Homo sapiens: one gene and its partners. The protein of the gene in region 1 interacts with the protein of each later gene in a pairwise test. Each region holds a gene or a part of one and is shown on either strand. Other genes may lie near its edges. The genes, in order: TACC1, ZNF48 and SH2D4A.

The links.
Region 2: the proteins of TACC1 (region 1) and ZNF48 interact in binary tests that used the Homo sapiens proteins (3 or more experiments, as listed by UniProt).
Region 3: the proteins of TACC1 (region 1) and SH2D4A interact in binary tests that used the Homo sapiens proteins (3 or more experiments, as listed by UniProt).

Annotation. Positions count from the first base shown.
Region 1 is NC_000008.11:38,782,758-38,790,279, forward strand, and holds the start of TACC1 (transforming acidic coiled-coil-containing protein 1), read left to right. Parts: upstream 1-4,478; 5' UTR 4,479-4,799; coding exon of another isoform or gene 4,800-4,825; coding exon 4,826-4,986; intron 4,987-5,348; exon of another isoform or gene 5,349-5,489; intron 5,490-5,946; coding exon 5,947-6,062; intron 6,063-7,522. UniProt on the Homo sapiens protein: Involved in transcription regulation induced by nuclear receptors, including in T3 thyroid hormone and all-trans retinoic acid pathways. Might promote the nuclear localization of the receptors.
Region 2 is NC_000016.10:30,390,778-30,398,469, forward strand, and holds the start of ZNF48 (zinc finger protein 48), read left to right. Parts: upstream 1-4,642; 5' UTR 4,643-4,801; exon of another isoform or gene 4,802-5,002; 5' UTR 5,003-5,017; coding exon 5,018-5,096; intron 5,097-6,552; coding exon 6,553-7,692. UniProt on the Homo sapiens protein: May be involved in transcriptional regulation.
Region 3 is NC_000008.11:19,309,478-19,316,714, forward strand, and holds the start of SH2D4A (SH2 domain-containing protein 4A), read left to right. Parts: upstream 1-4,215; 5' UTR 4,216-4,300; coding exon of another isoform or gene 4,301-4,346; intron 4,347-4,517; exon of another isoform or gene 4,518-4,602; intron 4,603-7,237. UniProt on the Homo sapiens protein: Inhibits estrogen-induced cell proliferation by competing with PLCG for binding to ESR1, blocking the effect of estrogen on PLCG and repressing estrogen-induced proliferation. May play a role in T-cell development and function.

The DNA of each region.
Region 1 (7,522 bases):
TCACTGCTTTAAGTGGAGCTTTGTGTTTGTTTTTGGTTTGCTTGTTTTCAACTTTGGATTTGTGGTGGTTGGTGGGAAGAATTAGGGATAATGTTGGGGTTATTTTTCTTCACTTAGAATAAACAGGCTGACCTAATTCTGTTTATATCTTTTGCACTCAACAACTGCTTCTTTAATATGTTTACATCACAGAGTAGAGAACTAAAGTGAACTTTCTTATAAAGTCAATAAACATATAGTCATGAATATTTGATGGGAATGAGAGAATCTCACAGAACTGGCTCTTCAATGACACTAGTGTAGTGTAAATATCTATCTATCTATCTATCTATCTATCTATCTATCTATCTATATATATATATATATATATATATATGTCCCCCCAGCTTCTCTGAAAGCTGACACAGTGTAACTCTTCTGTGTGGCAGTTCTGCTATAGGTTTGACCTGTGACCTAGGTTGAATGGTATACTTCCTGGGGAAAGCAAACTTTTCTTCTGTGATACAGAAGAAAACAGATCAATGGGTGGATATGACAAGAGTTGTTCACCAGAGCAAAGTCTGGGCAAGGGTCTTTCAGCAGACCCCAGGTGGGGGGCTCAGCCAAGTCTTTAATAAATGCAGTTTGGATCTTTGTTAATCTTCCTGGAACTCTGAAAGAGTATTTTCTTTTTTTTTTTTTTGAGATGGAGTCTCACTCTGTTGCCCAGGCTGAAGTACAGTGGCATGATCTCGGCTCACCGCAATCTCTGCCTCCCCGGTTCAAGTGATTCTCCTGCCTCAGCCTCCCGAGTAGCTGGAATTACAGGCGCCTGCCACCACACCTGGCTATTTTTATATTCTTAGTAGAGATGGAGTTTCACCATGTTGGCCAGGCTGGTCTCATACTCCTGACCTTAAGTGATCTGCCTGCCTTGGCCTCCCAAAGTGTGGGATTGCAGGCATGAGCCACCGCACCCAGCCTGAAAGAGTATTAGCTATGAACATACCCTGACACCTCTCTTTTAAAAAATTAGAAAGGAGCTTCTCTTTATAATTTTCTGTATAAATGCATTGTACACAGTCCTGATTTCGGTGTTTGGGTAGTGGAGGGAAGATTGTAATTCTATAGATGTTTGTAGTCTACAGGTAAAGGATAATTAGGTAAATATCTGATCTTGCAAGGTTAAGACTGTCATGTTAACATATTTGAATGCGGTCAGATGCTGTTATTGGCAATGTTGTCTTGATTAGACATCATCATGCCCTTGCCTGGTTAGACTGAGGTAGGGCAGAAAAGCAGATAGGGTGGCCACAGCCTCCTGTTGGCAATGGCACGTCTTCACTGACAGGGCTAGAGTGTTCCTAGTTGTGACTTTGCAACCTGTACCAGGTAAGAACGAAGCCAGGACTAGGAGCAGCAGACTGAGAGGAGTGGTCCAGCTAATGGACTCATATTCATTACTGCTTACACTAAGTTCAAGAACTTGCAGAGGAGTGATTTTCAGAAACCTTAGGCATTTATTTGCTAGTCCAGTCTCAAGAAGTTGCTGCAGGCCGGGTGCGGTGGCTCACACCTATAATCCCAGAACTTTGGAAGTGGGTGGATCACCTGAGGTCAGGAGTTCAAGACCAGCCTGGCCAACATGATGAAACCCCGTCTCTACTAAAAAATAAAAAAATTAGCTGGGCATGGTGGCAGGAACCTGTAATCCCAGCTACTTGGGAGGCTGAGGCAGGGAGAATCGCTTGAACCCAGGAGGCGGAGGTTGCAGTCAGCTGAGACTGCACCACCGTGCTCCAGCCTGGGTGACAGAGTGAGACTCCATCTCAAAAAAAAAAAAAAGTAAATTGCTGCATAGGTGAGGCTTAATCTTACTGGGGCCATCACTTGGTCCTGGGTTCTGTTATTTTCTGGCCCAGAAACTAGATTTCCCCAGGGGGAGTCAGGCTTTAGGAATTTATGTCACCTTAGCCAAACTCACAAGGACTATTTGTAAACTAGAATGTTTGTTTTTTCTTACATATATATTGAACACCTACTGAGTGTGTGGTTCTGTCCTAATTTCTGGAGGAAGTCCCAAAGGGGGGTAAAGTCCCTTTAGAAGCTTGTGGGACAGATATGTAAATAAATATGTTATATATGGTGTGCTAAGTGTAGAATGGCCTTACATCCTGGTCTTCTGGAGACAGTCCTGGTTTATGCCTATAGTCCCTGTGTAACTATTAAGAATGCTGTCTTTCACTTTCAGATCTAAGGCCACAGGAAGTGTTCTTTATGGATGTTCGGGGTATAGAAATGATAGAAAGGAAGGACAATGAGCCTGCTTCCCCCTGTAGACACTTGAGCTAAGTGCTGAAGGACGTTCGAGCAGCTGAAGCCTGGGAACTTGGGGTGGGCTGGGGTGGGGGAGGAGGTGTGTTCCAGGAATTCGCAAAGCTCCCTCTGCAGGCAAAGGGAGACTGTTCCCGAAGCAGTAAGCAGTTGGTTCAAGCTAGGCACTGTTTCCCAAATTTACCCTGTGATAACAGTTCCCCAGGACACTTAGTGAACACACAGATTTCCAGACTCTGCTGGCAATTTGGATTTTTTTAAGAAGGCTGGCGGATGATTCTTGGGCATATTAAAGATTGACAACGAGTTCTCTACTCACTGTGGCTAGGAATACAAAAGGATGGGCATAGAGGGGAATGGGAACCGAAAGATTAGAGCACGAGTCACTGATCAGCCAGGCAGGGGTGACCTCAGGCAAGAAAACCTTCAGAGGTAAAACCAGGTGGGAGTTATTTACAGTAGATCATGAAAGATGGGGAGTGCGGGAACTATGTCAGTCACCACAGGGATGCAAAGGAATGAAAAGATAAGAGAACTATTCAGGAGGAAGAACAGGTCCTAGTGTATGCTAGTTACTGATTTGCTGGGGTAATATTATTTCCCAGAAACAGAACCCTGTGTCAAATCCAGGAGCCTGGGGGACTGTAGAACCTGAAGTTTTACTGGGTAAGCATAAACCTAAAACTACAACAGTTGGATAAGTGGTGTGATATATTTCACATGGACCTCCTGCCTAGTTCACTTCTTTATAGTCGCTAGAACACTCATGACAATTTATTTCTGGGAAGAAGCCAGGATGAATTCGAAAGCATCCTGACACCCCACCCCTTTCTTTTCTCTAGACTTCAGGTTAACTCCTGCCCTTCGGTTTTGGTAAAACTACCCTGCCAAGCCTTATCTTGTATTTTGCTCCTGTTTTTGTTATCAAATGTGTAAAACAGTCACGATGAATATACATGCCAACTGCTTTCAGAGGCAACGGTTAGTCTCTTGCAAGTTTCAACGTGCACATTTTGGAGCTGCTGTCTCTGTGGGAACCTGCAGGCACCTCATGGATGCACCACAACTCGGAAATTACAGTACCACCTGGAACACCTTATCCAGGCAAGGAGATCATTAAGCCTGGTGTTTGAGGCAATCGATTCACTTGGAAGAAGGTGCTTTGGTGGTTTTGAGAGGAACAATCCCTACATGAAATCCCTCCATGGGAAATGGAGAACATCAGCTATTTCCCATTGCCTTCAAACCTAAAGATGTCGCCAGGCCTCTTGGCTTGTTACTGAAGCAGCGAAATAAGTCAGAAATCAAAGACTTAGAAGTTACGAAAAGAAAATCTCAAAAAGGAGAATGGGGTCAGGCGCGGTGTCAGGCCTGGAATCCTAGCATTTTGGGAGGCAGAGGCGGGAGGATCGCTTGTGGCCAAGAGTTCAAGACCAGCCTGGGCAACATATCGAGACGCCTGTCTGTATTTTAAATAAATAAATATGGAGAATGGGAAACCCATCAGGCTGTAATCTCACAGGGAATTTAGTACCCTTTACCTAAGACAAGACCTGGGCACTTGGGAAGCCTCCCCGAGTGCGGTTTGGGGAGGGGGAGGGCATCTTAAATTCCAGTCCTCGGTCACTCTTGTGGCTTTGCCAAGGGATTTTCAAATCCCGGGAATGCCAGGGATGGAGATGAACAGGCTGAAATCCCCCACGCTGCCAGGGTTAGGGAGGGGAAAACAACAGTCCACAGCGGCCGCGAAGGTTTGTATTTTTTTTTTTTTGGTAACAAGGGGCTTGTGTGCAGTCCAATATCACCATCGCCGTGAAGTCACAGTGGCAAGATGAAAATGTTTAAAAAAATTTTAAAAAGGAATAAGGAAAGAGGAAGAGGACAGCGTGCCCCGGCTCAGAAAACGGTCCTCCTCTGCCCCGGACGCCGGCGGACCTGTGGGGTATGACCGAATCTCCCCGCGCAGCCGGCAAGCCCCGGCCCTCAGTCGGGCCGCGACCAGCGTGACGCCGCGGTAGGGGGATCCGGCGGGCGCGCGGCCGTCTTCAAAGCCCCGGCGCCGCCGCCGCCCCCGCGCGCGCGCGCGAGTAGTACGGTCCGAGGGGGCGGCTTCTGGGGCGCGGCTCCGGCGGCAGCTGATGCGCGCCCCGCCGGCCGGGAGGCGGGAGTCCGCGAGCCGGGAGCGGGAGCAGCAGAGGTCTAGCAGCCGGGCGCCGCGGGCCGGGGGCCTGAGGAGGCCACAGGACGGGCGTCTTCCCGGCTAGTGGAGCCCGGCGCGGGGCCCGCTGCGGCCGCACCGTGAGGGGAGGAGGCCGAGGAGGACGCAGCGCCGGCTGCCGGCGGGAGGAAGCGCTCCACCAGGGCCCCCGACGGCACTCGTTTAACCACATCCGCGCCTCTGCTGGAAACGCTTGCTGGCGCCTGTCACCGGTTCCCTCCATTTTGAAAGGGAAAAAGGCTCTCCCCACCCATTCCCCTGCCCCTAGGAGCTGGAGCCGGAGGAGCCGCGCTCATGGCGTTCAGCCCGTGGCAGATCCTGTCCCCCGTGCAGTGGGCGAAATGGACGTGGTCTGCGGTACGCGGCGGGGCCGCCGGCGAGGACGAGGCTGGCGGGCCCGAGGGCGACCCCGAGGAGGAGGATTCGCAAGCCGAGACCAAATCCTTGAGTTTCAGGCAAGTACACGGCGTCCCCGCTGAGATGCAGACGCGCTTGCCTCCATCCATCTGCGACTCCCTCTGTGTGCGTGTGTGTGGTCGCCACCCGCGAAACCGTCCTCACGGCCGTGCCGCGTCCCTGCCCGGAGCCGGGTCCCCGTGTGCGTCCGAAAGTTCAGGATCTTCTGTCCTCCCGTGGGGTTTCTGGCCCCCGTTTCGCTAGGAGAGTTCCGCACCCAACCCAGAATCTGCAGTCTCTCCGCATCCCCGCTGGCCTCGGTCACTTTCTCTAAGCTTCGACCCCCAGCCCCCGCCCCTCCACACTGGAGCAACGTCACTGATCTAACCCAGTGCAACTTAGGGCCCCCCCGTGGGGAAGAAGTCGCTCCCCGGCCCTTCCCGGGGCCCTACCGTGTACCCAAAACGCAGCCGCGGTGAAGAAGGTCGCGTGATGACAGGCCCCTGGCAGCTGCTGGGAAATGGTGGTCTCTGCCGGGCTGTCATCCGCGTGATTGCGGAAGGCAGGTGACACCATTCTTAGCCTCGGGCCCAGGGAGTTCCAGCAGGTAGAGGCCTACCGAGCAAAGAGGAATGCCTAGCATCGGCCTAACTCGGGGGTGGGACCAGTATTAATTGTTAAAGCCTCTGGGAAAGGGCTCTTGTGACAAAAGGAGTCTGTTGGAAAAGCGCATTTTTCAGGTGTCTGAGGGAAGGATGACCTCGAAAATAAATGGTGCTGGAGAAAAGCTCCAGGGAATGGAGGAGCTTTCAGAGAGACAGGATGCCAGCCTGAGAAACCCAAGGAGGGCACTGCTCAGAGACCGCAGTTGCCTCCCGCAGGTCAGACCCTGCTGAGGACCGGTTGGTTGTGAAGTTAGACAAAAGTGCTGGACTTTTAGCCTCTGTGAATATGTAGATTTCAAAGGGTGTCGGAAATACCGTTGAAAGTGGTAATTCCTCATTTTTCCTCCTTGGCAGCTCGGATTCTGAAGGTAATTTTGAGACTCCTGAAGCTGAAACCCCGATCCGATCACCTTTCAAGGAGTCCTGTGATCCATCACTCGGATTGGCAGGACCTGGGGCCAAAAGCCAAGGTAAAGAAAAACTTGCATTTTTCCTGCCTGTTTTGTTTCAAAAGTTTTGAAAAATATCAATGAAGGAAGGAAAAAAGTGTAAATTTAGGACCATTTAAGAGAGTTTGACTAAGAAAGAGCTGTTTGAAACCTCCTGGCTTATGTATTTTTAGGGGTGTGGTGATCGAGGCTTTCTCCTCTGAGTAGAGTTTGTGCATTTGCAGTATAAGATTATCATTATCAAACATTCCTACTAGGCCTTTCTCCTCAGCCCCTAAAAAAATATGTATAGTAATGAAGTAGGAAGATCATGTTTATATTTGACTTCACAAATTCCTCAGGCTAAGTTGCTTTCTACTGGGGTGTGGCTGGAGACAAAAATTACAGGTAAGACTTGACTTAATTTTTGATAGGGAGGTTCTTAAGAGGCTTTTTCGGAATCACTCACCTCGCCCACTTCCATGCAGGGATGTGGTGAGAGCCCTTCAGTCTACTTAGGAAAACCTGGCACATGGATTCCCTCCCAGCCCCTCAGAGCCCAGCCCTTCATCTGCAGGAGCTTCCGTTGTCTCACTTAATTAGTAGAAACCTTTTTTGTCACACAGCCAGTTCAGAATAAAATTTCACCTATCCCAACAGAATTCATATGCTTATTTACTAAATAGAGTGCACTGTGATTCAGCAGTGAAGTCCTGCTCTCTCGAGCTAACATTGTGGAGGGAGAACCTGTGAAGGGTTAAGCAAAATATCTATGTCAGCTTGTGTGAAGCACTGTGGAGAAAAATAAAGCAGGGGAAGAGAATAGGGAATATGGAGTGGGGATAGGGAAGGCTGAAGGGGAGTTAGTGGGGGCATTCATGATTAGGTGACTTGAACAGAGACCTGAAGGCAGATTGAGGGAGCAGGCCTTGGAGGTTCCTGAGGTGGGAACCCTTCCAGCAGAAGGAGTGGCATCTGCAAAGGTCTGACAGCACCAGCCTGCTGCAGGGAGGCCGTAAGGTGGAGGGTTCATGGTACAGTTTGAGGACCAGCCAGGAGGTCAGTGTGGACTGACTACTCAGAGAGCAGGAGGAGCTGAAGTCAGCGTGGTCAGAGGAGGTCCAGATGCTGCTGCAGTGAGGATTTGGTTTTCAGTAAGGTGGAAAGCCACTGGAGGGCATATGCATTTCCAAGGGCTGCCATAACAGAGTAACTTAGCGGCTTACAATAACAGAAATTATTCTCTCACAGTCCTGGATAATTGAAATCAGAACCAGAAGTCTCAAGTCAAGGTGTTGGCAGGGCCTTGCTCTTCTGAAGGCTCCAGGAAGTCTGTCCTTGCCTCTTCTAGCCTCTGCTGGGTGTCTGCAATCCTTTGTGTTCTTTGGCTTGTGGCAGCAGAACTCCAGTCTCTGTCTCAACACATGGCCATCTTCTCCCTATGTATCTGTCTTACCGTGCCCTTCCTGTGAGGACACCAGTCGTTGAAGTTAGGGCCCACC
Region 2 (7,692 bases), on another chromosome or scaffold:
GCCTGGCTAATTTTTTTTTTATATTTTTAGTAGAGACGGGGTTTCACCGTGTTAGCCAGGATGCTCTCGATCTCCTGACCTCGTGATCTGCCCACCTCAGCCTCCCAAAGTGCTGGGATTACAGGCGTGAGCCACCGCGCCTGGCCAGAGACAGGGTTTCAATGTGTTAGCCAGGATGGTCTCGATCTCCTGACCTCGTGATCTGCCCACCTTGACCTCCCAAAGTGCTGGGATTAGAGGCGTGAGCCACTGCGCCCGGCCGAATAAACTTACATTCTATCTTCATCTTTCACTGCTTTCCTAATATGTAAACTCACGGCACATTAAAACGGAACTATTCTCTATTTTCCTCTCTGAAGATAGGTCGTAATCCATAGTCATCTTTGGATCTCAAGCTTCTAGCACACATTAGGTTTTCTTTTATTTTTATTTTTTGAGACGGAGTCTCACTCTGTCGCCCAGGCTGGAGTGCAGTGATCTCTGCTCACTGAAACCTCTGCCTCCCGGGTTCAAATGATTCTCCTGCCTCAGCCTCCTGAGTAGCTGGGATTACAGGTGAGCACCACCACCTCCAGCTAATTTTTTTATTTTTAGTAGAGACAGGTTTTCACCATGTTGGTCAGGCTGGTCTCCAACCCCTGACCTCATGATCCGCCCGCCTCAGCCTACCAAAGTGCTGGGATTACAGGCGTGAGCCACTGCTCCTGGCAGTCTTTTTCTTTTCTTTTTTTTTTTTTAAACAGAGTTTTGTTCTGTTGCCCAGAACGGAATGCAGTGGTGTGATCTCAGCTCACTGCAACCTCCGGCTCGCGAGTTCAAGCGATTCTCCTGCCTCCGCCTCCCGAGTAGCTGGGATTACAGGCGCGTACCACCACATCTGGCTAATTTTTGTATTTTTTAGTAGAGATGGGGTTTCACCATGTTGGCCAAACTGGTCTCGAACTCCTGACCTCAGGTGATTCACCTGCCTCAGCCTCCCAAAGTGTGGGGATTATAGGCGTGAGCCACTGATTCCAGCCTAAGGTTTTCTTTCTCTTTCCTTTTCTTTCTCCTTTTTTTTTGGCGGGGGGGTGGGGGTGGGATAGGGTCTTGCTCTGTCACCCAGGCTGGAGTGCAGTGGCATGATCTCAGCTCCCTGCAACTTTCACCTCCCGCGCCCAAGAGATCCTCTCACCTCAGCCTCCCAAGTAGCTGGGACTACAGGTGTGCACCACCACTCCCAGCTAACTTTTTTGTATCTTTTTATTTATTTTATTTTTTCCTGAGGCGGCGTATCGCTCTGTCGCCCAGGCTGGAGCGCAGTGGCGCGATCTCGGCTAACTGGAAGCTCCGCCTCCCAGGTTCACGCCATTCTCCTGCTTCAGCCTCCTGAGTATCTGGGACTACAGGCGCCTGCCACCACGCCCATCTAATTTTTTTGTATTTTTAGTAGAGACGGGGTTTCACTGTGTTAGCCAGGATGGTCTCAATCTTCTGACCTCGTGATCCACCCACATCGGCATCCCAAAGTGCTGGGATTACAGGAGTGAGCCACCGCCCCCGGCCCTGTATCTTTTTAGAGATGGGTTTTCACCATGTTGGCCAGGCTGGTCTCAAACTGCTGGACTCAAGAGACCTGCCCACCTCAGCCTCCCGAGGTGTTGGGATTACAGGCGTGAGCCACCATGCCTGGCCCATATTAGGTTTTCAATTAGTATGTGGCCCACTGTTTATTCAGCCCCCACTGCCTGGAGTTGTTCATTCAGCCCCCACTCCAGGCAGAGTCTGGACTTTGCCGAAATCAAACCAATTAGAGTAATAGCTGATACTTTTGCTAAGTGCTTTACACATATTCATCCTCAACCATCAAAGTTAGCTGTTATCATCCCTATTTTACAGTTTGGGAAACAGAAGCTTAAGTAACTTCCCTAAAGTCAAGTAGCAATTAAGTGACAAAGGCCAAGAACCACACTCTGCATAAATGGCTTTAAAGACAGTATCTGCACCCACTGAACACTACAGAAGGTATCTCTGTGCGCTACACTCCTATAAAATTTTGTCCATACAGTCAATATAGAACCTGTCACACCATCTGACAACTCCATATCCTATTGGGCCAAGAGCTCCCTGAAGAGTTTCTTTATTTCCAGGGCCTAGGACAGTGTTTAGGTATTAGCTAGTGATCAATAGGTATGTGTTGATTTCTGGTCCCTGTTTCTGTCAGTGCTAACATCCATGCATGCCAGGCACACAGAGATTCATTACTACAAACTAGAACCCTTCCTGTTCTCCCACACTATCGTGAATTGGTCCATATAACTCTTTTTTTTTTTTCTTGAGATGAAGTCTCGCTCTTGTCCCCCAGGCTGGAGTGCAATGGCGCGATCTCAGCTCACTGCAACCTCCGCCTCTGGGGTTCAAGTGATTCTCCTGCCTCAGCCTCCCAAGTAGCTGGGATTACAGGCGCCTGCCACCACGCCCTGCTAATTTTTTTATTTTTAGTAGAGATGGGGTTTCACCATGTTGGCCAGGCTGGTCTGGAACTCCTGACCTCAAGTGAGCTCCTGCCTCTGGCTCCCAAAGGGCTGGGATTACAGGTGTGAGGCACCACACCCGGCCTTTTAAATTTTATTTATTTATTTTTTTGAGACGCAGTCTGACTCTGTCACCCAGGCTGGAATGCAGTGGCGTGATCTCGGCTCTTTCCAACCTCCGCCTCTCAGGTTCAAGTGATACTCCTGCCTCAGCCTCCTGAGTAGCTGGGATTACAGGCCCGTGCCACCACGCCCTGCTAAGTTTTGTATTTTTAGTAGAGACAGGGTTTCACCATGTTGGCCAGATTGGTCTCAAACTCCTGACCTCATGTAATTCACCTGCCTCGGCCTCCCAAAGTGTTGGGATTACAGGTGTGAGCCACTGCACCTGGCCGGGTCCATATAACTACCTTAACAGTCTCTCTTTCTTTCTCTTTTTTTTTTAGATGGGGTCTCGCTCTATTACCCAGGCTGAAGGGCAGTGTCACAAATATGGTTTACTGCAGCCTCAACCTCCTGGGCTCAGGTGATCCTCCTGCCTCAGTCTCCAGTGTAGCCAGGACCACAGATATGTGCTACCATGCGCTGCTAAATTTTTGTTTTTTTTTTGTAGAGACAAGGTCCACTTTTTTGCCTAGGCTGGTTTCGAACTAGTGGCCTCAAGTGATCCTCCCACCTTGGCCTCCCAAAGTGCTGGGATTACAGGCATGAGCCACTGGGCCCAGCCCATTCTCTCTCTCTTTTTTTTTTTTTTTAAAGAGACAGGGTCTCGCTCTGTTGCCCAGCATGGAGTACAGTGGCACGATCCACGATCATGGCTCACTGCATCCTTGAATGCCCAGGTTCAGGGAATCCTCTCAGCTGGGATTACAGGGGCAGGCCACCAGGCCCAGCTAAATTCTCTAATTTCAGTGATTTGTGTACTTGCTCCTTTAGACTGGTAGCTCTCCAAGGACAAATCTTGCAGGTGTTTCAACTTTTTATCCCCAACTCTTGGCTTAGCACTAAGATGCTAATAAATGTGAATTAATGCATAAACCACAGTTACCCCCACCATCATTGGCAGAGGGGCTGAAGACACCTCCAGACACTCTCTCCACCCCAAAACCAAGCCCGCCCAGAGAGCGGATACTGGGATCTTGCTCCTAGGGCCTGGGAACCTGGAAACACAGCTCCAGCCAGGGGCCCACCAGGATGGGAAACAGGGCTTGTTCTTCAGCCTCTCCCTGAGCCTGGCCTCTATAGGGCTGCCGACCTGTCCGGAGTCTTTCTGGCCGCCTCTTTCTTTGTGTCTCTTTCTCTTTGTCTCTGCCCGTTTCGCTCACTATCGTCTTTTGTTCCTCTGCTTCTGGGCCTGTTACTCTCCAGGCTCCCAGCCTCTTACTGCTCCTCGGACTCTGCGTCAATGACTTTATCTCTTATCCGTTTCTACGTCTCTGTCTCTAGCGGCTAATCTTTGGCTCCCCTTATTTTTGGTCAGCCGCTGTCCCTCGGTCTCTCTCTGCCTTTGCGTCCTCTGTGACTCAGGGCTCTGATGTGAGTCTCTGGCTCAGGGTCTCTGTTCCGGGCCCCAGGTCTGATTCCATCTCTCCAGCAGCATTTACCCGGTGTCTGCCTCTAGCCTCTGCTCCTGCCTCGGTCTCCCCAGCCCAGCCCCCATTCCATACCCACCCCCACCCCGGGCCCTCGGCCTCTCGGACCAGCCCCGCTTTGTTTCCCACGTCTCGGCGCCCCGCCCCGCCCCGTCTGGGGTCTCCGCCGCCCTTTGTCTGCCTTGGTCTCTCCCCCACCCCTTTCCCCGGGTCCGTCTTTGGATCCCTCTTTCTTTGTCTCTCCCAGGTCGGAGTGGCTGGCGCTGTCGGCCGGCCGGGGAGGTCGGCGCGGGTGGCTGGAGACACACAGCCACAATTACGAAGAGCCTCGGGCCTCACCACCCAGCTGCAGCCCAGGAGGCACACGGTTAATACCACCGAGTTCGGGCCGCCGGCCTCGGCTTAGAGTAGCCCCTGGGCCGCACGCTGCCGCCCGCCGGCCACAGAGCTACCGCCGACGCGGGCGACCCCCACAGGCCCGCAGCTCCTCCAAGGTCCTAGAGCGGCTCCGTGCGGCCCCGCGCTTCCGCTTCCCGTCCCCGCCCCCGGTGGCCGCCCCCGGGACGCCTGGGTCCGAGCCCGCTCCCGGCTTGGCGCGGAGCCTGCATCCCGGAGCCGCTGGCGGCTCGGGCGCCTGCACCCCGCTGAGGAGCTCCGGAGGGCGCCGGGGTGGCGGAGCCGGAGGCGGCCGGCAAGGTGAGAGCGGCGGCTGCGCGCTGGGAGGAGCAGCAGGTGCAGGGGCGGCCGGCGGCGCGGGCAGGGGGCACCGGGAGCCGCGCCCGTACCTGGGACCCGACGCCGCCCGGTGCCCGCGCTGGCCGGCAGAGGGCAGCGGCAGGGCGCCGCGGGCCACACATGGCTGCGTGACCGCGGGATGCTGTCTGTCCCCTTGCTCAGGGCGGCGTGCCGGCGATGGAGCGCGCGGTAGAGCCTTGGGGCCCAGATCTCCACCGCCCGGAGGAGAGGGAGCCACAGAGAGGCGCCCGCACAGGTGAGGGCCTCGGCCGTGCGCCGCCACGGACAGGTAACGGCCGGTGGGGACTGCGATGCTTGGCTGTGGCCGGCCGAGATCCTGGAAGATCGGACGTGAGCTGTGCCTCTGGGGAGATAGGGGGAGGGGAGCTTTCGGAGCACCAACTGTGCGCCAGGCCGGGAGGGGCTCTTCACGGCCTCTGTCCCCTCCCTCACGGCCTTCCTCATCCTTACTGCCTCTGCCCTACTTCAGGCTTCATTCTGTTTTATCCTGGCAATTGCAGTAGCCTCCTCTCTGCCCCTTTCTCTCCACTGATGCATTCTCTCGCCAGCTTGATCTAAGTCCAGATATAATCCTGTGTCTCTTCTGGAAAACCTTCCCTAGCGTCCCCCAGTCTCCTAATTAAAAGCCTTAGCTAGTGTCCAATCCAAACCGTGCGTGCTCAGGTTAGTCCCAACATCCTTTGACACCTTATCTTCCATTCCACTCCATTATTTTCTCTTCGCTCTGCCGTAATGCCGGTTCCTATTTCCTTATCTCCTATCTCTCTTGTGACAACATAGTTATTCTAGTTATTCTGCACCCACAATTATAACCATTGATACTTTAATCTTATCTCTCCTACCACCCTAAGCTTCTTGAGGAAGGGATGTGTGCCTGGGTCCTCTCAGGTACACACAGGATAACTGATGTAATAAATTACCGAATGGGCTAATATAATAAGATACAATAATAATAGCAAATACCAAGTTTTCCAAATAGACAATATAATGTAGGGATTAACACGGGCTTGAGTGTCAGAGAGACCTTAGTTAGACATCACGCTTTGCTACTTTTTTTTTTTTTTTTTTTTTTTGGCGACAGGGTCTCACTGTGTCACCCAGGCTAGAGTGGCACAATCACAGCTCACTGCAGCCTCCACCTCCTGGGCTCAAGTGATCCTCCTACCTCAGCCTCCCAGTAGCTGGGACTACAGGTGTGCACCACCATGCCCAGCTAATTTTTGTATTTTTTTTTGTAGAGTTAGGGTCTCACCATGTTGCCCAGGCTGGTTTCTAACTCCTGGGCTTAAGTGATCCACCCACCTCGGCCTCCCAAAGTGCTAGGATTACAGGTGTGAGCCACCCTGCTGGCCTGGCTTTGCTACTTTCTAACCTTTATAACCTCCAGCAAAAGGACTTAAATTCTCTGAGTCTTTCCATGCCTGTAATATGGGGATAGTCATAGTGTTATAGTATTGTTTGCAAGCGTTTAATACTAATGCTGAGTTTGGTGAATGACATACATTAAGGGCACAGTAAAAAGAAGTTTTTATTGAGAGGCACAGATAGTAAGTGCACCAGAGGTTGAGAGGACAGAGAGATTGGGGTTCCTGTGACCACAGATTGTCAAGGGAGTCTTCCTGGAGAGGTTGCTGTCAAAGATAAGTACCGAGCCAAAGGGGAGGGTCTACAACTTCCTTTTCTTTCCTCAGGTCTAGGGAGTGAGAACGTGATTTCTCAGCCGAATGAGTTTGAACATACCCCACAGGAAGATGACTTGGGGTTCAAGGAAGAAGATTTGGCTCCAGATCATGAAGTAGGAAATGCCTCTCTCAAACCTGAAGGCATCCAGAACTGGGATGACTTATGGGTCCAGAGAGAGGGTCTAGGAAAGCCTCAGCCTCGGGACAGAGGCCCCCGGCTCCTGGGTGAACCACGCTGGGGCCAGGCTAGTAGTGATCGGGCCGCTGTGTGTGGTGAGTGTGGCAAAAGCTTCAGGCAGATGTCAGATCTGGTGAAACACCAGCGGACCCACACAGGGGAGAAACCCTACAAGTGTGGGGTCTGTGGCAAGGGCTTTGGGGATAGCTCTGCCCGGATCAAACACCAGCGGACTCATAGTGGGGAGAAGCCCTATAGAGCCCGGCCACCAGCCCAGGGTCCCCCAAAGATTCCTCGGTCCCGGATCCCTGCTGGTGAGCGCCCCACTATCTGTGGTGAATGTGGCAAGAGCTTCCGGCAGAGTTCTGACCTGGTGAAACACCAGCGGACACACACTGGTGAGAAGCCCTACAAGTGTGGCATATGTGGCAAGGGCTTTGGCGACAGTTCCGCCCGCATCAAGCACCAGCGGACACACCGGGGGGAGCAGCCCCCCCGACCAGTGGTGCCCCGACGGCAGCCATCTCGGGCAGCCACGGCAGCTACCCAGGGACCGAAGGCCCAGGACAAGCCATATATCTGCACTGATTGCGGCAAGAGGTTTGTGCTCAGCTGCAGCCTCCTGAGTCACCAGCGTAGTCACTTGGGGCCCAAGCCCTTTGGCTGTGATGTGTGTGGAAAGGAGTTTGCCCGGGGATCCGACCTGGTGAAGCACCTGCGGGTGCACACGGGTGAGAAGCCCTACCTCTGCCCAGAGTGCGGCAAAGGTTTCGCGGACAGCTCCGCCCGAGTCAAACACCTCCGCACCCACAGTGGCGAGAGGCCCCATGCCTGCCCGGAATGCGACCGTACCTTCAGCCTCAGCTCCACCCTTCTTCGCCACCGCCTCACTCACATGGAGCCCCAGGACTTCAGCTTCCCAGGCTATCCCCTACCCGCTCTGATCCCCAGCCCACCCCCACCTCCTCTGG
Region 3 (7,237 bases), about 19 Mb from region 1:
GCAGAAAATTCCTTATAAAACTAAAAGGGATTTGTGCACTTTTTGCAAAGATTGCCTGTAAGAGAGAAGCTAGGAAATGGAAACGCATTTCTGAATCTGGTCCAAAAAAGAGATGAGATTTGATTTTATGAGTCTAGTAGACCTTATCAAAACTGCCTGGGAAGATCCAAGGAACACCAGAATATTAGAAAAAGTTTGCTTCTGCTCCTTTCTCAGAGCTTTGACCCATAAAAAAGCACTGGTTACCATAGGCCACTGCAGATGTCCCATATCGTTGGGATAGCGACTGTCCAATTCCACCCATAAGTTTGAGGTGAGCAGTTCTCTGAGACACGGGCTGCTTGTCACTGTATTACAGAAATATAAGAAACCACCGGGCATGGTGGCTTACACCTGTAATCCCAGCACTTTGGGAGGCTGAGGCATGCAGATCACGAGGTCAGGAGATTGAGACCAGCCTGACCAACATGGAGAAATCCTGCCTCTGCTAAAAATACAAAAAATTAGCCAGGCGTGGTGGCACACACCTGTAGTCTCAGCTACTCTGGAGGCTAAGGCAGGAGAATCACTTGAACCCGGTAGGTGGAGGTTGCAGTGAGCCAAGATCGTGCCACCACACTCCAGCCTGGAGACAGAGCGAGACTCCATCTAAAACATATATATACACACATACATACATACACACACATACATATATACACATACACATACACACACACACACACACATATATATATGTATATATATATATACACACACACATATGAGAGACCAGAAATGTCTAATTAGCAACTCAGAGTGTGGATTTTAGAGAAAGAACTCCATAAAGGTAACTCTTGGAAAAACATTAAATATTACAGTAATGTAATTGATTCAAAGATGAATGTAAAGACCAATAATTTATCTTGGTGTTTATGAAGATGAAGAAATAAAGGCCCATACAGAACCATACACAAATGAAAATAGTTCAAAATCAAATCTAACTGCTCACAGAGAGCTGAAAACACAGCAGACCCTAAATATATTTTTAATGATTGATGAACTGATTAAGATTTATTTTGAGATTTGATCAGTTTTTAGTAAAGTTTAAATGTTTTTGTATTTTTCTTTCATTTGTACGTTACATTCACTGTGGTACAAGTGTATACCTGCTCTAACAGTTAAAAAGTGGTTGAGGTTTCTGATGCTGATCATAAAATATGACAGGAAAAATACTCTATTTTATAAAGAAAACATATGAAGGCAATTTTCATTGTCTGTAGAACTGAAATAAGGATTAATCTTTATCTCAGAAAAAGTGCAAAGTGGCTTATCCTGTCTTTCTGGCAACAATAGGGCTGGCAGTGTTGCACAACTCCAGGGGGCGCCTTACACATAGTGATCTCTGTGCTTGTCCCCTGCCCACCCACAGTTGTACAAGGGCCATGCTATGCCATTTTACTTGACAGCCCTGGGCAGCAGGGCTCCTAAGCAACAGTCCAAAAGGAAGGCCAAGGAACACATCCATTAAAATGTAGGCTATTTGTTTCATGGTATTCATTACCACGAATAAATGACAAATTAAAAATATTAGTAACCAATAAATAGATGTTTAGCTTTCTCTTTAAGTTCTGGCAGTGAACGCTGCAGCAGAGCATTCCTGAACACATGTTGGTGCTACCATGTTCCATGTCTGTGACTCGTCAGTGGCCAGCCCCTGTCAGCAGTCTTCCCCACATTCGTCCCTATAACACATCCTAGATCATGGAGGGGGGAAATGTTTTCCTCTGAGAGTACTGGCCCAAAGGGAGGGAAAAAGTAACTGAAGGCCCCACAAGTAATAGGCCACCTGATTTTTTTTTAGAGCATTATAAAACATTCTTGGCCAGGCGCAGTGGCTCACGCATGTAACCCAGCACTTTGGGGGGCCAAGGTAGGCAGATCACCTGAGGTAAGGAGTTTGAGACCAGCCTGGCCAACATGGTCAAACTTAGTCTCTACTAAAAAACAAACAAACAAAAAAAAAAAACAAAAACAAAATACAAAGTTAGCCAGTTGTGGTGACAGGTGCCTATAATCCTAGCTACTTGGGAGGCTGAGGCAGGAGAATCACTTGAACTCAGGAGGCCGAGGTTGCAGTGAACCAAGATTGCATCACTGCACTCCAAGCCTGGGCAAAAAGAGTGAAACTCCATCTCAAAAAAAAAAAAAAAAAAAAAAATTCGAATTGTCTACTTTTGAAATTAAGGGAAAAACATCTACCTTTTCTCTTCCAGACCATGCCAATTAAAAGAGGAAATTCCAGGAGTCAGCAGAAAGGAAACAAAAAGAGAAGGTGATAGAGGAGAGGGGAGACCAAGTGAAGAGGATGGAGAAGAAACTATAAAAATAAGAGAAGAAGAAGAGTTCATGGCAAATATAGGAAAGAGCCACGAGACAAGAAGGATGGAAATGGGCAGATGAGAGAAAAGGGAAGAGAGTCTGGGTTCTGAGTTGTTTGCATTATTTGTGTACAGCGTGCGTTCCTTTGGGCTGTCAATATTATTTCAAGATAGAAGCACCAAGGTGTTTCCTTACCTAATCTCTGAAGTGGCAGACCATCATCACTTCTGCCGGGTTCTATTGGTCAAGCATACCAACCTTTACAAAGTGGCAGGGAGCTATGCAAGGATGTGAATACCAGGAGGATAGGATCCCTGGGAATGACTTGGAAGGTAGGTGGCATGGTGGGCAGAACCCACAGCCTAGGGTGAGATGGCAGGAATGTGGAATTCCAGTACCTTAATGTGATATGAACTGATCTGAGTGAATGTGTTTGAACACTCACCACATGCCAAGAGCTCTTCTAATCTCTTTGCATGTAGCATCTCATTTAACCCTCTTGACAACTTACCGAGGCAGACACTCTTTATCTAGAGGAGGAAAGTGAGGTACAGAGGTTAGTAGCACAGTGATAAAGCTGTTATAAGGAAGGACTTGCCAGGACCTGGAGAGAGACTGGGTGTGAGGAAGGTAGGCTGTCACAGTGTCCTGTGGGATTTTTCCTAACTGATAAACCACCCTGTATGGTTCAACTGATGCATCCATGCAGGGCTAGGATTCATTCTGACCTCGTCATAGCAGCTTTCCAGGGGCCAATCCCACTCCAGCCTAAAGCACCCCATATGCTATCATTTAAACTGCAGTAGGAACTAAGCCTTACACCAGAAATTCCTCCCTGATGGGATTCCTGGAATTGTTCCTAAATAGCTGGGTCTTATTTCCTGACAATGCCGCCTGCCCCGAGGCTTGATGTAACTCTGCACAGCTTCTGCAGTTTGGAGAGGCAGGGAAATGCCATTTTGTGTTTGAATCCAGCAGGTCAGGCTCCTAAAGAGGTCAGGTAGTCCGTGGAGAGGACTACTGGTGTTTACTGTTTATTACATCTCTCCCAATACACAAAATCTGGGGTTCACCAAAGCAGGCGGTTTTCTTCCACATGCTCCTCTAGGATGGAAAATGCCCTCCAGTGGAAATGCCTTTCCACTGTGCTTCTGCTCAATTTTCCTCCAAGATTTCCTCTAACTGTGGACTGCCAGCTCCTCCCTGACGTCTTCAGGCACCAAGCCAACCTGTTCTTGTTGCAATCCTCAAGACTCCTTTCAGCATCTTAACTTTTCCCCCAGTTTTCTTTCATTTTCTCCACCTGTCTGTGTTGACTGCGGTCTCCTTCCTTCCAGCCTTTTCCTTCCTTCATCTTGTCCTACAAAGCCACACGTGTACCGACAAGTGCCAAAGAGTTTGATCATTTACTTAATGTCAACAAAAGAAAAAAAAAAAAAGCTCCAGAGTCGCCTTGGCCTGCAGCACCCAAGCAGAGTGAACAAGTGGGGCCTGCGCACCCTCCTACCCTACACCTAGCAAGGAACCCCGAGCTCTGAAACGTGGAAAGGCCCAGATCTGCAGATTTAATCTAAGTCCTGCAGTCCCCAAGAGATCACAGACTGCAGATCCCTGTCTCATGAACTAAGAGAGGAGAGGACAAGCCTACCCCGGACTACCGCAGCTCGGGGACAGCGCGCGGGCCAGGCGGCCCGAGATGCGCAGGCCACGCAGCCTCGCCGACGAGTGGCCCTGGAGAGCCTCCAGGCGCCCGGGTGGGGCCGCGATTGCGCCCCGCCAGTCACCCCGGCATGTGGGCGCGGCGGGGCGGCGCGGGCGGGACGGCTACAAGAGCTGTTTTGCGTCCGGGCCGGAGTATTTGCTCAGCCCGCCTGCGCCGCTTGGGACGCCTCTGCCTTTCCCTCCCTCCCTTCCCCGACGGCTTCTGGCGGCCAAGTGGATGTGGCGGGTGATCGAGCCACCCTGCCCAGGGGCGCCCAGCACTGGTAGGTGCTGGGGGTGGGGCGAGGCTTTGGGGAGAGTGTGCGTGGGGTGGGAGTAGGGGGAAGGGAATTTCCTCGGAGGTTGCATGGGTGCATGGGAGGCGCAGGGGCCAGAGCGGGCGGGCGGAAGCCTCACCCCCGCCTCCACCCCTTCGCGGCGCCCGGGGCGGGCTCAGGTGCGGGGTTGGGCGGCGAGAGCGGCCGCGGCGGGTGTCCGGTGTCCGGTGTCCGGTGTCCGGTGTCTGGAGCCGCTGGCTAGGTGAGCGGCGGTCCCCGGGGCCTGGGGGCTTGCAGGGGGTGGCGGGGGAACTTCGAGGGAGAGGGTCTGCCGGGGCTGAGGACCTTCGGGGAAGTTCTGGAATCCGGCAGGGACACGCGGCGCGTGCTTCCACCCGCGGGGAGTGCAGGCCCCGGGAGGGTCCGGGCTGGCCTAGAGTTTCTAGACTCCTAGCAGGAGCACGTCCTCGACTTGCGCATGGAAATCTTCCAGGAGGGAAGTCCCGGGAAACGGTGGCAGCTGGCGCAGCACCCCCGCAGCACGTTCCCCGCGCACCGGCACCCAGGGGCGCCCCCACGTGGGGTCTGGGAGCGCGCGGAGGCCAGTGCAGCGCCGCCTCCCTCGGGCTGCAGCGGCGGGGCTGGCCCAGACCCAGACCGGGTGCCCAGTGCGCTCAGCCAAGCGGCGCCCCTGCCCGCTCCTGGACTCGGGGGTCACGCGGGCACCGGAAGGAGCTACAGTTTGTAGGTTTTCTGAGTTGTCTCTCCCTTCCCAGGGAGCTTAGAGAAGCAGCAAGCGTGGCACCTCCCCCTTTCAAACAGATGCTCCTCATCGCTCCAAAGGCTTTCGTTTGATTGCTGGTTTAATAGAAACAACGACTTGGGTACGATTATTTTAAAATAGTGAATAAATAAGTGGAAAGCATACAGGGGCATAGATTTGGCATATGAGTGGAATTCTCTATGTATACTAAATCTGTGTGTACAGTAATCTCAAATTTCTGAAGAATAGTATATATTTACAAACTGCTGTCATCTCTGGTAATTTGTTTCATCCTCAAAAACAGCCCTTTTGCTGGTAGATGAATAAGATAAAGTTTCAATAAGAAAACAAAGTTGGACCACAGAGCTGGCTGTTTTAAAAGAATTAGAATTCAAACTGTATTGTTAATGTTATAGTTACACTGTCCATACCACAATACTTTTATTTATTTTTTATTTTATTAGGTCGGTGCAAAAGTAATTGCGGTTTTTACGTAAAAAAAACCGCAGTTACTTTTTTTTTGGCCATGTAAAACACAATAACTTTTGCACCGACCTAATGTTTTTAATTTTTGAGACAGGGTCTCCTTCTGTCACCCAGGCTGTGGTGCAGTGGTGCGATCTCGGCTCACTGTAGCCTCAAACTCTCCAACTCAAGAGATCCCCCCACCTCAACCTCCCAAGTAGGTGGGACTATAGGTGCGGGCCACCACGCCTGGCTAATTTTTATACTTTATGTAGAGACGGAGTTTTGCCATGTTGCCCAAGCAGGTCTTGAACTCCTGAGCTCCAGCAATCCACCCATGTCCACCTCCCAAAGTGTTGGGATTACATGTAGAACCACTGTGCCCGCCTACTATTTTTATGATTTAGCCTGTATCTAAGGCCTTTTAAAATTGTATTTTGTTTAGGTCTCAGAGTTATTCAAAAGACAGTTGTATTGTAGAACAGTGTGAAGGTGTGAGAATCAGGCCAAATCTATGGTATCATGGAAAACAACGGATTCTCTGACCTTTTAGCAATTGGTGTTCAGAATAAATAGCAGGTGTGGGCTTGTTGCTTATCATTTCTCTCTTTTAAGAAAGGGGCTGTGTTAGCTGAGCTATTCCTTTGTTGGATCTTGAATAACCGGAGATTTGCTGCCCTTGATATAGTATGGGAAAGTCCTCTGAGTTTGAATCAGTATCAGCAATGATTACTTCCTTGTCAGGGAGTGAAAGTAGGAAAGCCCTAGTTAGTTAATTTCCTGATTTCTATTTCTTCTACCCTGGCTCCACCAGGCTCCTTCGCTTCACAGTAGATTATGTCAGATACCCACACATTAGAAGTCACAGACTGAACCAGTCCTCGTTTCACAGATGAGGAAACTGAGTCCCAAGGAGGTGAGGTGACAGCACAGAGTCACACCGCTCACTAGAGGCGGAGCTGGGAGTTGAGGCTGGAGTGCCTCTGGGTGTCTTGGGTGTACTGTGCTGAGCTTGAGTTGGGGTCTGAGAAAGCCTTGGAGCGGGGGTTAGGGGTTGGGAATTAGAGGGTGAGGGGGACAGGTGATTTACACCAGTACCATTCAGCAGTGGCAGAATGGCCACATCGTCAACGGCCTGACCACAGATAGTTGTCGGCTGGGTCCCCCAAGTATTCTTGGAGGCACAAGGAAGCCAGTGTCTTTCCTTCAAGATGAACTAGTTAATTTTAATGTTAGAAATCCACGTTTGCTATAAAAAGTAAAACAAAACAACATAAAAATGGAAATAATGTGAGAATTTCATCACAGAGGTGCCATGAACCTCCTTGCACATGTGAGAGGCTGTGCTTTTTGTGCTGTTCTTAGTGTTTGTTTGGAAGGGGAAATTGTAGAGACGAAGTGGATGACTAAGTGCAAGGGGAAATGGGACTAAGTGTCTGGTGAATACGTGGGTAAGCAATGTCCACACCTGGGTCAGTGTGACAGTCGGTTCCTTGCTGTCCTTCCTGGCTGGGGTGTGTGCACCTGGCCTCCCCTAAGCTTAGCTACAGTTGACCAGGAGGAGGCTTCTGCCCTGTGTCAAGCACCATCAGTTCAGCGTTTCTGTTGCTGCAGGAATTTGCTGGCTTCCATTCTGAAATTTCATACATGGCACCACATCCTGCTGTTC